2 separate regions of the Homo sapiens genome follow, and region 1 is linked to region 2. Evidence: fine-mapped expression QTL. A gene starts in region 2. The other region holds a variant in brackets. All regions are shown on one strand. Distances are from middle to middle. Region 1 overlaps PELP1 (proline, glutamate and leucine rich protein 1). Region 2 holds the start of ARRB2 (arrestin beta 2).

The links.
Region 1: its variant is fine-mapped to the expression of ARRB2 in whole blood (INTERVAL, PIP 0.90).

Annotation. Positions count from the first base shown.
Region 1 is chr17:4,671,236-4,679,235 of GRCh38, reverse strand. It overlaps PELP1 (proline, glutamate and leucine rich protein 1), which reads left to right. Exons shown (of 17, transcript NM_014389.3): 6 at 2,424-2,483; 7 at 2,729-2,879; 8 at 3,074-3,200; 9 at 3,352-3,439; 10 at 3,874-3,962; 11 at 4,041-4,157; 12 at 4,280-4,427; 13 at 4,567-4,726; 14 at 5,562-5,617; 15 at 5,780-5,986; 16 at 6,091-7,545; 17 at 7,705-8,000. The coding sequence ends at 7,797. Among named protein-coding and RNA genes, the nearest start is that of PELP1, 29 kb to the left of the region's middle. The variant G/A (reference allele first, on the strand shown) is at 4,979.
Region 2 is chr17:4,707,120-4,715,633 of GRCh38, reverse strand. It overlaps ARRB2 (arrestin beta 2), which reads right to left and starts at 5,002. Exons shown (of 15, transcript NM_004313.4): 1 at 4,890-5,002; 2 at 591-621. The coding sequence starts at 4,912. RefSeq lists enhancers at 503-572, 5,215-5,384 and a silencer at 4,756-5,285.

The DNA.
Region 1 (8,000 bases), 36 kb after region 2:
GCCAACATGGTGAAACCCTACCTCTACCAAAAATACAAAAAAATTAGCTGGGTGTGGTGGTGTGTGCCTGTGGTTCCAGCTACTTAGAACATTGAGGCAGGAGATCCCCTGAAGCTGGGAGGCAGAGGGTGCAGTGAGCTGAGATCGTGGCACTGCACTCTAGCCTGGGTAACAGAGTGAGACCCTGTCTCAAAAAAAAAAAAGGTCATCTGGAGAACTTCCCTCTGTTGAGGGTGTTGAGGGTTTTGGCTTTGTCGGTTGCCAGCACTTCAGATAAGAATCTGTCATGCAGAGGCTCCAGGGGCAATTTGCACTTGGAAAATCTCGCAGACTAGTACTTAGGAAAACTGATAACTGCCGTTTTGAAGTGTCTGTGTTTTCTGTTACATTCCCCGGATACTCTCAGGGTAATTGTAGACTCCAAGCTCAGGATTACTACTCCCAAGTAATGTGAATCAAGCATTCTGAGTCCATGAGGTCAATTCCTGCAGAGACTTGAACTCACTTCCTCGTCCTTGCCACATTGATGAGCAGTTCCTCGGAATGGGTGGGAAGACTGACCTACTCTTGAGAGAGCCCCAGGACATGCTGTGTGTGTGCGCGTTTTGAGTGAACTGTTCCAAGCGAGTCATTGCTTTGGTTTGCTTTGTGGGTCAGCCAGGGTAACCTGTGGTTAGAGCCGTGTCGCTTCACCGTACACTGCTTTATTGCAGTCACATAAGCAGACTTCTGTTGGCTTCAGTCCAGCTTTTTGAGCCGTTTTTGGAGATAGGGTCTCGCTCTGTGACCCAGGAGTGCAGTGTTAAGATTGTAGCTCACTGTAACCTTGAACTCCTGGGCTCAAGTGATCCTCCCACGTCAGTCTCCCAAGTAGCTAGGACTACAGGTGTGCACCACTAGGATGTCTCGGGGAAAGCGTGAGCCTGCTCTTTCCCCTTCTCTGTATGTTGCCAGTGTTGGCTCCAGATTCTTGTTTTTCCATATGCTTGTCTTGTTATCCTTACTAATTCTTTTTTTTTTCTGAGACAGAGTCTTGCTCTGTCACCCAGGCTAGAGTGCAGTGGCGTGATCTCGGCTCACTGCAACCTCCGCCTCCTGGGTTCAAGCAATTCTCCTGCCTCAGCCTCCCAAGTAGCTGGGATTACAGGTGCCCACCACTGTGCCCAGCTAATTTTTGTACTTTTAGTAGAGATGGGGTTTCACCATGTTGGCCAGGCTGGTCTTGAACTCCTGACCTCGTGATCTGCTCACCTCAGCCTCCCAAAGTGCTGGGATTACAGGTATGAGCCACCGTGCCTGGCCTTTTTTTTTTTCTTTTTGAGACAGGGTCTCACTCTCATCACCCAGGCTAGAGTACACTGACTGGCATGATCTCGGTTCTGGGCTTGGGTGGTCCTCCCACCTCAGCCTCCCAAGTAGCTGGGACTACAGGCATGCGCCACCACACCCGGCTAAGTTTTTGTATTTTTAGTAGAGATAGGGTTTCTCCATGTTGCCCAGACTGGTCTCAAACTCCTTGGCTCAAGTGATCCGCCTGCCTTGACCTCCCAAAGTGCCTGGATTACAGGCGTGAGCTACTGCACCCAGCCTGTGCTTTTTTATTGACATGTTAAGTAATAAGATCTAGAAGCAGGTCTTACAACGACTATAATTGCAAATTAGTGATGCATGTGAATGATATTTCAGGATGTGTTACAATTATAATGTGACATGAAAATGATTCTATTAGTGACAGTCACAGGTACTGCTGATACTACTGTGGCTATTTGTCTGCATTTATAAGTGAAGGAAACACTACATTTTACAAATAGGCTAGTGGGAGTAATTTTTTTCCCCATCCATGATCACAGGCCCCCTATGATTGTATATCCAACTAAATTGTGGTTCTCAGGTTAAACACTCCTGCCCTAGCACCTTCACACAGCAGGCAGAGAAAGTGCCGAATGACAGATTGCTACTCCGAGACTTGCTGCCTTACTTCTGCTCTAGCAGCCTTCTTTTTTGACCTTGTCCTGCCCTCATACCTCTGGTTAGTGTCTTAACTTCCAGCTTGGACCCTCGTTTTTGTGTGTGAGCTGGTAGAGAGTTGGAGTGTGGAGACTGTTTTTTAGTACTATGTCCTTTTGGCTTGAGGGAAAAATTTTGCAAAAACTGTCAAGGAGGAAGCCCAGCTGTCTCTGGGACAGGGCCAGGCCCTTTTCGCTCCCAAGCAGGAAGCCGAGGACCAGAGCTGGCGTTGAGGAGTCTTTTACCATGAAAGCATGTCCGTGCCCGGTGTTGATGCCCCATAGAGGGCTTTGCTTCTTGTGTCTACAGGAAAAAGAGACCTGGGCTTAGAGTCTGCTGCTGGGAACGGATGGGATGTACATCTCTGGCTCTCAGAGCTGGCTCACTGGCCTCTTCCTTTTTTCCTCCACATCCAGGGCAAGCTGGCCTCATTTTTTCTGTCTAGGGTGGATGCCTTGAGCCCTCAGCTCCAACAGGTAAAGGGCAGGGAGGGAGAGGGAGAGCCCGGGGATCTGAGCCTGGATTGTCTCTTGCTGCTCCTCCTCTAGCTTTTCTGTCCTGCCTTCATATGCCCATCTGTGTCCTTCGGCCTCATTGTCCCATCTCAGGTTTCCCTCAGAGCTCTCTCTGATCTCCATCTCTTTTGGGTGTCAGTGGGGCTGGGGGTTCTGTGGCTGGGCTGGATTCCCATCTGACCAGGTTTCTGTCCTTTCTCCCGCAGTTGGCCTGTGAGTGTTATTCCCGGCTGCCCTCTTTAGGGGCTGGCTTTTCCCAAGGCCTGAAGCACACCGAGAGCTGGGAGCAGGAGCTACACAGTCTGCTGGCCTCACTGCACACCCTGCTGGGGGCCCTGTACGAGGGAGCAGAGACTGGTAGGGACCAGGGCTGCTAGTTAGTGGAACAATAGTGAGGAAGCGTGGCAGGAAGGAACAGGAGGGGAGCCCAGAGACATGGGGCAGTTGGTTTTTGGGGAAAATGGGTTAGAATACAGGCAGGTCGTCCACCAGAAATGACAGAGGAGGGGATGGAAGAAAGACAGTGTACAGGGTAGTTGTGCTTCTGCCAGCTCCTGTGCAGAATGAAGGCCCTGGGGTGGAGATGCTGCTGTCCTCAGAAGATGGTGATGCCCATGTCCTTCTCCAGCTTCGGCAGAGGTTTTCGGGACTGGCCCGCTGCCTAGGGCTCATGCTCAGGTGTGTGTGGGTATTGGAGGGAGCGGAGGCGTGGAGCAGGAGGGATTGATGAGGGAGTGTCGCCTTCATCAGGAGAAAGGAGATGAAGGTGGGTGTGGGAGTTATGCCAGGGAGCCTGCTCTGAAGGTCTCCCTGCTCTGATTCTCTTTAGCTCTGAGTTTGGAGCTCCCGTGTCCGTCCCTGTGCAGGAAATCCTGGATTTCATCTGCCGGACCCTCAGCGTCAGTAGCAAGAATATTGTAAGTGGGATTTGTCATCTCTTCAGAGCCCTTGCTCAGGATACCAGGCAACCAGGAAAGTACTGGGGACCTGAGTCTCCCCAAACAGTGTCATCCTGGAGTCGTCCCAGAGAGCTTCCTACTTTTGTCCAAATAACATCACTTCCTATGTGTCGTGACACAGGAGCACAGTGTCAGAGTGTAGCAAATGCTTCCTTGGGGGAGGGTGAATTTGGGGATCAGCTGAGTCATTGCTGAGAGGCCCAGCCATCCTTCTTACCTTCCATCCAGGGTCTATTTTAGAGGATAGGGGTTTGATTTTGTTGGGAGAGCTGAGATCAGGGGTTGGGTTTCTTACCTATGTGTACATATGTAAATGGTCATTCCCTGTTTCTGTCTCTCTCTGGCTCTCACTTTCTTCCTCCACTCTTTATCTCTGCCCCTTTTTTCTCCAGAGCTTGCATGGAGATGGTCCCCTGCGGCTGCTGCTGCTGCCCTCTATCCACCTTGAGGCCTTGGACCTGCTGTCTGCACTCATCCTCGCGTGAGTGGGATTGGGCTGGCTGTGGTGAAGGGATAGGGCGTGCCAGAAACGAGGGTCACCATTCCTTCTCTGCCCCAGGTGTGGAAGCCGGCTCTTGCGCTTTGGGATCCTGATCGGCCGCCTGCTTCCCCAGGTCCTCAATTCCTGGAGCATCGGTAGAGATTCCCTCTCTCCAGGCCAGGAGAGGCCTTACAGGTGACCATCCAGGAAGGCAGGAAGGGAATAAAGAGGAGAGGGGGGTGAGGGGGTGCAGGTGGGCTGGGGCTTCTGGCATGTTGACCCCCCATTCATAACTGCCATCTTTGCTCATGACACAGCACGGTTCGGACCAAGGTGTATGCGATATTAGAGCTGTGGGTGCAGGTTTGTGGGGCCTCGGCGGGAATGCTTCAGGGAGGAGCCTCTGGAGAGGCCCTGCTCACCCACCTGCTCAGCGACATCTCCCCGCCAGCTGATGCCCTTAAGGTGAGGAGGCCTCAGCTCCGCCTTAGGACTCATCCTGTGCCCTTTGACCAAGTGTGCCTGCTCAGGAAACACTGTCTGCTGTGGCTGTCTTGCCTTGTTGTTTGCCTGTGGATGTGATTTATGTTTTCTCTGCCTCCAGCTGCGTAGCCCGCGGGGGAGCCCTGATGGGAGTTTGCAGACTGGGAAGCCTAGCGCCCCCAAGAAGCTAAAGCTGGATGTGGGGGAAGCTATGGCCCCGCCAAGCCACCGGAAAGGGGATAGCAATGCCAACAGCGACGTGTGTGCGGCTGCACTCAGAGGTGGGTGAGGCCTGTGCCCTGGACCACTGGGGCTCAAACGGGACCCCATCCTTTCCCCTAGTGGGACTCCCCTACCTACTATACCCTTAGGTGAAACTTTTGTGGGGAGAGTGCCTAGACCAGCCTTCGTCCACTGCGATAAGTGATCCCCCAAACAGCAGGTGAAGGGGAAGGTGCCTGTGAAATGCAGAGCCAGGCGGAAGCCCGCAGAGAGGCCAGGAGGAGGCACCCAAGCAGCCGCCCTGTTGCCAG[G/A]GCTGCAGGCGGCCTCGGGTCCTGCGGTTAGACCGGGAGCTCTGGTAGCCGACACAGCCCCTCCAAGGCCTTCGCTTCCTCCGGCGTTCAGCACGTCCTTGGTGTATCCACTTTCTATCAGGCAGAGTTCCAGCATGCGGGGAAGGCTCCTCCCTGTGAAGCTGACATTCTTCCAAGGGCAGGCTGCCTGGGGGAGCTCCCTGCTCTCACCGTAACCACTGACCTGTCCACAGGTTGCTAGTCGGATACTGTGCAGTTAATGGATGCCTTTCCTCTGGGTCCCATATATTTCACTGCCTGCCACCCCATCCCATGGGAAGGGGAGAACCGATTGTTCCCAAATATATAAATGCAAAATTATAAAATTTATAATTTTTTACTTACATTGTCTCAATTAAATACCGTCAGTGGCCCTATACAGTAGAGGTACTTTTATGATCCCCATTTTCTAGTTGAGAAGTTAAATGACTTGGCCAAGATAGGCAGTGGCAGAGTTGATGCCCATTTTGGGCTGTATGCTTCAGAAGCCCTTGCCGTCAGTCTGTTGGGAGCCTACCCTTTACACACCATTCTTCTTCCCCAGGCCTCAGCCGGACCATCCTCATGTGTGGGCCTCTCATCAAGGAGGAGACTCACAGGGTTAGTGGAGCCTCGTCTCCGTGGAGATAGGGGAAGGGGCCCCTGCTCTGTACACATTGGGGGGTGTGGCCCAGAGGTGGGTCCATTCCGACCTGGGAGTAGGCTCTGGAGAAGGGTTGGGTGGTCTTGGGGATGTTTCCAGGTGTGCTCTGTCCTTTTCAGAGACTGCATGACCTGGTCCTCCCCCTGGTCATGGGTGTACAGCAGGGTGAGGTCCTAGGCAGCTCCCCGTACACGAGCTCCCGCTGCCGCCGTGAACTCTACTGCCTGCTGCTGGCGCTGCTGCTGGCCCCGTCTCCTCGCTGCCCACCTCCTCTTGCCTGTGCCCTGCAAGCCTTCTCCCTCGGCCAGCGAGAAGATAGCCTTGAGGTAACTGTGATGGGCCAAGCCCCTCTTTGGTTCCTGGAGTCTCTTGTTTCCAAGAGACTCCCAGTATTTCTGGTGCTCACACTTGCCCTTTCTTCTTTCCTCAGGTCTCCTCTTTCTGCTCAGAAGCACTGGTGACCTGTGCTGCTCTGACCCACCCCCGGGTTCCTCCCCTGCAGCCCATGGGCCCCACCTGCCCCACACCTGCTCCAGTTCCCCCTCCTGAGGCCCCATCGCCCTTCAGGGCCCCACCGTTCCATCCTCCGGGCCCCATGCCCTCAGTGGGCTCCATGCCCTCAGCAGGCCCCATGCCTTCAGCAGGCCCCATGCCCTCAGCAGGCCCTGTGCCCTCGGCACGCCCTGGACCTCCCACCACAGCCAACCACCTAGGCCTTTCTGTCCCAGGCCTAGTGTCTGTCCCTCCCCGGCTTCTTCCTGGCCCTGAGAACCACCGGGCAGGCTCAAATGAGGACCCCATCCTTGCCCCTAGTGGGACTCCCCCACCTACTATACCCCCAGATGAAACTTTTGGGGGGAGAGTGCCCAGACCAGCCTTTGTCCACTATGACAAGGAGGAGGCATCTGATGTGGAGATCTCCTTGGAAAGTGACTCTGATGACAGCGTGGTGATCGTGCCCGAGGGGCTTCCCCCCCTGCCACCCCCACCACCCTCAGGTGCCACACCACCCCCTATAGCCCCCACTGGGCCACCAACAGCCTCCCCTCCTGTGCCAGCGAAGGAGGAGCCTGAAGAACTTCCTGCAGCCCCAGGGCCTCTCCCGCCACCCCCACCTCCGCCGCCGCCTGTTCCTGGTCCTGTGACGCTCCCTCCACCCCAGTTGGTCCCTGAAGGGACTCCTGGTGGGGGAGGACCCCCAGCCCTGGAAGAGGATTTGACAGTTATTAATATCAACAGCAGTGATGAAGAGGAGGAGGAAGAGGAAGAAGAGGAAGAAGAAGAAGAGGAAGAAGAGGAAGAGGAGGAAGACTTTGAGGAAGAGGAAGAGGATGAAGAGGAATATTTTGAAGAGGAAGAAGAGGAGGAAGAAGAGTTTGAGGAAGAATTTGAGGAAGAAGAAGGTGAGTTAGAGGAAGAAGAAGAAGAGGAGGATGAGGAGGAGGAAGAAGAACTGGAAGAGGTGGAAGACCTGGAGTTTGGCACAGCAGGAGGGGAGGTAGAAGAAGGTGCACCTCCACCCCCAACCCTGCCTCCAGCTCTGCCTCCCCCTGAGTCTCCCCCAAAGGTGCAGCCAGAACCCGAACCTGAACCCGGGCTGCTTTTGGAAGTGGAGGAGCCAGGGACGGAGGAGGAGCGTGGGGCTGACACAGCTCCCACCCTGGCCCCTGAAGCGCTCCCCTCCCAGGGAGAGGTGGAGAGGGAAGGGGAAAGCCCTGCGGCAGGGCCCCCTCCCCAGGAGCTTGTTGAAGAAGAGCCCTCTGCTCCCCCAACCCTGTTGGAAGAGGAGACTGAGGATGGGAGTGACAAGGTGCAGCCCCCACCAGAGACACCTGCAGAAGAAGAGATGGAGACAGAGACAGAGGCCGAAGCTCTCCAGGAAAAGGTGAGAGGCCAGGCAGGGAAGGTTCCTTGGGCGAGAAGGTGGGGCTGGCGGGAGAAGGGGTGGCAGCTGCTTCTCTTAGGAGAGGTTTGCCCAGCCTGAACCATTCTTCTGTGTATGTGTGTGTGACTATTCTGAATCTTGTATCTTTGTGCCTAAAAGGAGCAGGATGACACAGCTGCCATGCTGGCCGACTTCATCGATTGTCCCCCTGATGATGAGAAGCCACCACCTCCCACAGAGCCTGACTCCTAGCCATCTTCTGCACCCCACTCTTTGTTTCCAATAAAGTTATGTCCTTAGATAGCGACTGCTGCTTCTGCCTTTTGCCACACCTGGGTCCCCAGCCAGAAGCTCAAGTGTCTGCTGGGCTTTTCAGGGTGTCCATAGTATTCCCCAGATGTCTCCATAGCTGTCCTCTTTTTGACGATCCAGAGAGGAACAACTGACATTGGTGT
Region 2 (8,514 bases):
CTCAGGGAGGACTCAGCCCAACCAGCGAGGTGTGTTTGTGTGTGTCCGTGTGTGTGTGTGTGTGTCCGTGTGTGTGTGTTTGCATCCTCAGGGAGGACTCAGCCCAACCAGCCAGGTGTGTGTGTATGTGTGTATGTGTGTGTGTGTCTGTGTGTGTGTGTGTTTGGATCCTCGGGGAGAACTCAGCCCAACCAGCCAGCTAGAGAGCAGCTGCCACCCTCACTAGGTCCCCTCAAGGGGCTCTAGGATAAATAGGCCATAGCCCGGGGGCTGTTAGGTTTTCCCAGCCCCACGCACCTTGGGTTGGCTCCTAGGAGGGCTACAGGCACATGGCTTGCTTTTGGCCTCCTCCTCTGTGGTCTTGCTTGGGGACCCAAGCCTGCCCCACCCAGCCCTGTGGCTGGCTCAGGCTGAGCAGCCTCTGCGGCAAGGGGCTTCAGGAGGGAAGGAAGTCGGCGCTTAGCTGTCACAGGAAGTGGGGAGCTAGGGGTTGGGGATCATCTTTGGGTAGGTTGGGGATCGTCTAGGGGAAGGCTGGGCTTTGTTGGGGCCCAGGGAGGGTCAAAAGGGTAAGTGCTGTGGAGACTCACCTTGCAGTTAGGGCTCGACTTCTTGAAGACCCTAACAAAACAGAAAGGGAAACCCCACTGCCTCCCTCAGACTCAGCAGGGACCCCACACCAGGACCCTCTCCCTCCCAGGCCTGAGAAGCAGTGCTCACCCAGGCCTCCTGCCTGAGGCTGTGGGGCTTTGCCCAGCTCTGCCCCTTTCCCCTTCTTCCCGGAAGGTCCTTCCTATTTCTAACGTGGTGGCAAGGGGAACCCTTCTTCCCGGAAGGTCCTTCCTATTTCTAACGTGGTGGCAAGGGGAACCCTTCTTCCCGGAAGGTCCTTCCTATTTCTAACGTGGTGGCAAGGGGAACCCTTCTTCCCGGAAGGTCCTTCCTATTTCTAACGTGGTGGCAAGGGGAACCCTTCTTCCCGGAAGGTCCTTCCTATTTCTAACGTGGTGGCAAGGGGAACCCTTCTTCCCGGAAGGTCCTTCCTATTTCTAACGTGGTGGCAAGGGGAAATGCCCCTTGTCTTGTCCACCCTCATTCGTCCCCTTCCCTCCCCAGTAATGGCCACTGGTTGCCCTAGGAACCACCCAGGCTCTTCCCAGAGGACCCGAATGGGCAGGTAGCCACAGTGTCTGGATAAGACCTAACCATCTTTCCATCTGGTCTACAGCTCTGACAGCTGGAGCATATAGGAGAGCAATGACCCTGGCCTTTGGCCCTCAGATAGTTTCTACCACAGGCCCTACCCAAGTTCGACTCTACTCACCTCCAACTGTCCCCAACTCCGACCTCAAGAGCTTAAAAGCCTATTTGTCTTTTAAGGCCCAGCCTTTAGGAAGCTGACCCAGCCCAGACCCTGGTCGCTCCTTGTTTTGGGTTCCTGTCACACCTTGTTTATGTTTTACTTGTGGTGTGGTAGCACACAAGGATAGTTAGCTCCCTCCCTCCTCAGACTGTGAGCCTCAGAGGCCTTATTAATTTAGGCATCTCCAGCACAATGCCAGCCATATCATGAAGATGGTAATGCTGCTAACATTTCAGAGTGACTACTCCATGCCCAGCACTGTTCCAAGTGTTTCAAATGTGTCATCTCTTGTAATACTCTGTTTTTTGAGACAGAGTCTCACTCTGTTGCCCAGGCTGGAGTGCAGTGGTGCGATCTCAGCTCACTGCAACCTCCGCCTCCCAGGTTTAAGTGATTCTCCTGCTTCAGCCTCCTGAGTAGCTGGGATTACAGGAGTGAGCCACCATGCCCGGCTATGTTTTGTATTTTTTTTTTTTTTTTGGAGATGGAGTCTCACTCTATCACCAAGGCTGGAGTAGAGTGGCACGCTGTCAGCTCACTGCAACCTCCACCTCCTGGGTTCAAGCGATTCTCATGCCTCAGCTTCCTGAGTAGCTGGGATTAGAGGTGCCTGCCATCATGCCTGGCTAATTTTTTTTTTGAAACGGAGTCTCACTCTGTCGCCCAGGCTGGAGTGCAGTGGTGCGATCTCGGCTCACTGCGACCTCTGCCTCCCGGGTTCACGCCATTCTCCTGCCTCAGCCTCCCGAGTAGCTGGGACTACAGGCACCCACCACCACGCCCGGCGAATTTTGGTATTTTTAGTAGAGATGGGGTTTCACTGTGTTAGTCAGGATGGTCTCAATCTCCCGACCTCGTGATCCACCTGTCTCAGCCTCCCAAAGTGCTGGGATTACAGGCGTGAGCCACCACGCCCGGCCGCTAATTTTTATATTTTTAGTATAGATGGGGTTTCCCCATGTTGGCCAGGCTGATCTCAAACTCCTGACCTCTAGTGATCCGCCCGCCTCAGCCTCCCAGAAGGCTGGGATTACAGGCTTGAGTCACTGTGTCTGGCCTGTATTTTGTATTTTTTTAGTAGAGACGAGGTTTCCCCATGTTAGCCAGGCTGATCTCCAACTTCTGACCTCAGGTGATCCACCCGCCTCAGCCTCCCAAAGTGCTGGGATTACAGGCGTGAGCCACCGTGCCCGGCCTTAGGTTGCAGTGAGCTGAGATTGAGCCACTGCACTCCAGCCTGGGTGACAGAGCAAGACTTTGTCTCAAAAAATAAATAAATAAATAAATTAATTAAATTAAATAAAACCACCCAGTGATGGAGCTCCTAATATCTCTGTTTTACAGGTGAGGAAACTGAGGCAGAGAGAGGTCAAGTGTTTCAAGGTCACAGAGGGAGTAAATGGTGGGAATTAATAGAAACCAAGGCAGTCTGGCTCCGAGTCCATCCTCTCGATCAATATTACACTATCTGTCTCTGCAGTTGGCATAAATAGTTTGTTGAATTGAAGGTTATTTGCTTTCCAGTTGCTGAAACAATTTAAGCCTGGACTCCACCCATTGCTGGGAGGGTAAGGAAGTGTTTGGCAACCCCAGTGATCTGGCCAATTGTGGGCCTGTTCTTTGAAGCACCACCTTACTCCTTCCAATCCACTCTGCCTCAGCAGTGATCCCTGGAAAGGATCCTCAGATAGATAGCAGAAACGTGAAATCCTGCCAACTAGCCCATCCCTCTTCCAAGTCTACCACCCCATTCCCAGAGGACCCCAATGGGCAGGTTACCACAGTGTCTGGGTAAGACCTAACCATCTTTCCATCTGGTCTCCAGCTCTGACAGCTGGAGCATATAGGAGAGCAATGACCCTGGCCTTTGGCCCTACATGGTTTCTACCATAGGCCCAGTTTCTGCTACAACTTCACTTGCCCCTTCTTCCCAGAAAGCCAAGCTGTCCAAAGGTTGTAAGGCAAAGGGTATGGAGGGCCCCAGGTATTCCTAACCAATAAAAGAGAATACACATCGATATGGTAGCCGCTAGAATAAACACCCTATCTTTCATCCCAACTTGGGAGCTGAGTGCCGTGGCATCATCCAGGCTCTCCCTCCCCTTTGCTTCTGGTTTTCCTCTTTGTCCCAGGGTGTCCTCCCATTAGGAGCCCTGGCACAGGGCTGTGACAGCCACAATCAGTGGGCCAACTGGAGTGTGGTTCTGGGGCAATTGCCCTGGAGCAGCTGCAAGGCACTTGCCCTTTGGATCCTAACCCAGCCACCTCCTGCCAGGCTGGGGAGGAGCAGCGTGCATATACTAGGCTGGCCAAGGAGGCAGAGTGTGGGGATGACCAGGGAGGTGCCCAGTGGGAGCAGGGGTAGCTGAAGCAGATGTCCTTTCACACTTCCTGCTATTCGCTCCATTTCCTGTGGCCCAGAATTTCATGGGGGTGAGGGAAATTGTGCCAAGTTAGCAGTCTCCTTTGGTCCATCCGTCCCACTCCCTGAACCACATGACGGAAATCAGGGGCCTCCCACAAGTCAGCAACTTCCCCTTTCTCTGGGATGTTTAAACCCTGATCCAGGAGACGGATCATCTCTCTGATGATCTCTTTCTGATGCTCGTCTACTTGATGCTCAGAAACCCGGGTTCTCATACTCTATAGGTTGGAAGTGGGGTTGATATGATGTTTTGCAGAGCAAGCCAGAGCTCAGGACCAATTCCCTATTCCTGATACCCTCTGAGTTGAGGCCTACAGCCCCAACCTTTTCGTCTTTTGCTCCCGCTCCCCTGCGACTCAGGCATCCACCCCTTGCCCCTTGGGGGTGTTGAGTCACAACAGGAAGTGGATTTTGCTAGAGACCAAAAAAGAGAACTCGGGGTATCAGTGGAAGGAAAGAGCCTCGATTGCACAGAAAACATCCGGGGAGTGGACGCGCGCCCAGGGTGAATACTGCCTCCCCCACCCCCAGAGAGAGGGATACGATCTAGTTTCAGGGAGGGTCGCCACGCACTCGGCTCCCCCAAGATGAAGCTGTTGCTCCTGGCAACCCAAGGGAAGGTAGAAGTTTGGGTGAGGAGCCACCCGGCCCTCGGGACAGGTGTGGGCAGCGCGACTACCTGGGGGATATTGGATAGGAGGCTTTCCATTGGCTTGGCGCGAGTCTGGAGTGGATCCCCCCCGTCCCGGCATCCAGCCTCCCCGTACACGACCCCTCGGGGCCAGCCACCTGCTCCTCCTTCCTCCATCCCTGCATCGCAGCCTGCACGGGAGAGCCCAGTAGTCTGGCCCCACATCCCTGCGAGAACCCCGACACCGGTTTTTCTGATCCCCCTCAGGCCTCGCTTTCTGCAGGGGCCCGGGCATTTCCCCCCCACCCTCATTATCCTCGAGGACCTGCGCGTGCGGCCCCGGATGGCTGTCCCTAGGGACCCAGGCGTCCGGCCCCCAGATCCTCTCCGCTGCGCCCTCGTCTGGGACCGTCCCAGCCCCCGCCCCGAGCCGCCGCCCATGCCCCGCCGCGTGGCCCCACCTCCCTTACCTGGTCCCGGGTTTCTCCCCCATGGTGCGCGCGCCCGCCGCCCGCTCGGTTCGCGGCTCGCTCGCAGCCTCCTCGCCCGCTGCCAAGATCCCTGCTCCTCCCCGCGCCAATGCGCACGCGCGCCCTCCGCGCTCTCGCCTCTTCCCCCTCCCTCCCGGCCCCGCTCTGGTCTTGGGGAACCGGGGCCAGATGCGTCAGCCGGATCGCGCGCGCCGCGGCGCTGCCCGCCCTCTCCTAGCAGACACGCGGGGCCATTGGCTCCGCCCCCAGCCCTTCGCGCTCCTTCCCAGCCTGGTAGCCCTCCCCCGCGCGCGGGGCCAGCTCCCACTCCTCCCGCCCATCTCCCCGCCCCGCTGCAACCCCTTGAAACCGATTGGACCCCCCTAAACCAAGGCGCCCGCCTTCCAGGGGATCTAAGTCTTTCGATTGGCCTTCGGCATCCAGAACCTGCAGGGGTCTCCTCCCCTTTGTTTGCTTTCTCAGTGGCGGTGGGGGCGACCGGGCTGCTGGGGGCGGTGGAATGAGCTGAAGCGCCGTCTGGGAAGGAGGATGGTGGGGGGGAACACGTGGGTGAGCGGTTCAATTGCGTGATGCTTGCTTCAGTGCGCGCCGCTCACCTGCTCCACTCGGAGCGTGCCGCCTTCTGTGGCCAGCCCTCCCGCTTCTTCACTGCAGCGTGTCAGCTCCTCCTGGTGTTTGCATTTGATCTTCGCAGGGTTCCCTTTTCCAATGTCTCTGACTATCCATCTCCTTCACCCACCCATCCCAGCTAACATCCACTCACTCACCCGCTCCCATCCATCGGTCCATCTATGGACCCATCCATCCGTGCCTATGTTATGCTATTCACTATGCCAATCGATGGGGACACATACGAATTACCATGGCCCCTGCCTTCCTAGAATAGTTGAGGAGACACATACACAGGTATTACCCAGGAATGCTATTACAGAGGTCTGAGTCAGAAGACACAGCCGCTAACAGCAATTGGCCCGGGCGGGGGTGGAGGGAGTGCAGGCTGTCCAGAGCGGGGAACAGATGAGGACAGTCTTTCTGAAGGATGCGCAGAAGTTTTTTTTCTTTTTCTTGTTTTTTTTTTTTTTTTTGAGACAGAGTCTCACTCTGTCGCCGAGGCTGGAGTGCAGTGGTGAGAGGTGACAGCGTGCTGGCAGCTCTCACTCACTCTCGGCGCCTCCTCGGCCTTGGAACCCACTCTGGCCGCGCTTGAGGAGCCCTTCAGCCCGCCACTGCACTGTGGGAGTTCCTTTCTGGGCTGTCCAAGGCCGGAGCCGGTTCCCTCAGCTTGCGGGGAGGTGTGGAGGGAGAGGCGCGGGCGGGAACCCGGGCTGCGCGCGGTGCTTGCGGGCCAGCGCGAGTTCCGGGTGGGCGTGGGCTCGGCGGCTCCGCACTCGGAGTGGCCGGCCAGCCCCGGGCAGTGAGGGGCTTAGCACCTGGGCCAGCAGCTGCTGTGCTCAATTTTTCGCTGGGCCTTAGCTGCCTTCCCTCGGGGCAGGGCTCGGGACCTGCAGCCCGCCATGCCTGAGCCTCCCCTCCCCCTCCGTGGGCTCCTGTGCGGCCCGAGCCTCTCCGACGAGCACCGCCCCCTGCTCCAAGGCACCCAGTCCCATCGACCACCCAAGGGCTGAGGAGTGCAAGCACATGCGGACTGGCAGGCAGCTCCACCTGCGGCCCCCAAGCGGGATCCACTGGGTGAAGCCAAATGGGCTCCTGAGTCTGGTGGGGACTTGGAGAACCTTTATGTCTAGCTAAGGGATTGTAAATACACCAATCGGCACTCTGTATCTAGCTCAAGGTTTGTAAACACACCAATCAGCACCCTGTGTCTAGCTCAGGGTTTGTGAATGCACCAATCCACACTCTGTATCTAGCTACTCTGGTGGGGACTTGGAGAACCTTTGTGTCTACACTCTGTATCTAGCTAATCTAGTGGGGACGTGGAGAACTTTTGTGTCTAGCTCACGGATTGTAAATGCACCAATCAGCACCCTGCCAAAACAGACCAATCAGCTCTCTGTAAAATGGACCAATCGGCTCTCTGTAAAATGAACCAATCAGCAGGATGTGGGTGGGGCCGATTAGAGAATAAAAGCAGGCTGCCTGAACCGGCAATTGCAATGCACTGGGGTACTCTTCTGTTAGGTAGACCTTTTGTTCTTTTGTTTTTTGCGGTTAAATCTTGCTGCTGCTCCTTTTTTGGGTCTACACTGCCTTTATGAGCTGTAGTACTCGCTGGGAAGGTCTGCAGGTTCACTCCTGAAGCCAGTGAAACCACGAACCCACTAAGAAGAATGAATAACTTCGGAGACACGGCCTTAAGGGGGGTAACACCGCAAAGGCCTGCAGCTTCACTCTTGAGCTAGCGAGACCACGAACCCACCAGAAGGAAGAAACTCTGAACACATCCGAACGTCAGAAGGAACAAACTCCGGATATGCTGCCTTTAAGAACTGTAACACTTGCTGTGAGGGTCCATGGCTTCATTCTTAAAGTCAGTGAGACCCCCTACAAATTCTGGACACTGGTGTTGTGTCGGCTCACTGCAACTTCCATCTCCTGGGTTCCAGCTGTTCTGCCTCAGTCTCCCGGGTAGCTGGGATTACAGGTGTCCACTACCACGCCTCGCTAGTTTATATATATATATTTTAGTAGAGATGGGGTTTCAATATGTTGGCCGGGTTGCTCTTGAACTCCTGACCTCAAATGATCCGCCTGCTTGCGCCTTCCAAAGTGCTGGAATTATAGATGTGAGCCACTGCGCCCAGCCTCTTTTTTTTTTTCTTTTTTAGGAGATGGAGTCTCACTCTGTCACCCTGACTGGAGTGCAGTGGTGGGATCTCGGCTCAACAAAACCCCTGCCTCTTGGGTTCAAGCAATTCTGTGCCTCAGCCTCGTGAGTATCTGGTATTACAGACACCTGCAATGCCTGGCTACTTTTTGTATTTTTAATAGAGACGGGGTTTCACCATGTTGGCCAAGCTGGTCTCGAACGCCTGACCTTGTGTTCCACCTGCCTCAGCCTCCCAAAGTGCTGGAATTGCAGGTGTGAGCCACCGCGCCTGGCTGGGCAGAAGTTGAGAAAGGGCATTTCAAAGAGAGAGACAAGGCACGTCCTGTTGCGTAGTGTTGGTGGGGAAGTCTGGAACAGGCTGTGGAGGATTTTGTATAGCAGATGGAGTGAGATGGAGGGCCCCACAGAAGGACATGTGGAACCAGTACTGGTTTTTAAAGCAGAGGGGGTTGGGTGCAGTGGCTCACGCCTGTAATCCCAGTACTTTGGGAGGCCGAGGGGGGTGGATCACCTGAGGTCAGGAGTTCGAGACCAGTCTGGCTAACATCGTGAAATTTAGCCTATAATCCCAGCTACTCGTGAGGCTGAGCCAGAAGAATCACTTGAACCTGGGAGACGGAGGTTGCAGTGAGCTGAGATCGTGCCGTTATACTCCAGCCTGAGTGAGAATAGTGAAACTTCGTCTCAAAAACAAACGGGCCGCGCGTGGTGGCTCACGCCTGTAATCCCAGCACTTTGGGAGGCTGAGGTGGGCGGATCACGAGGTCAGGAGATCAAGACCATCCTGGCTAACGTGGTGAAACCCTGTCTCCACAA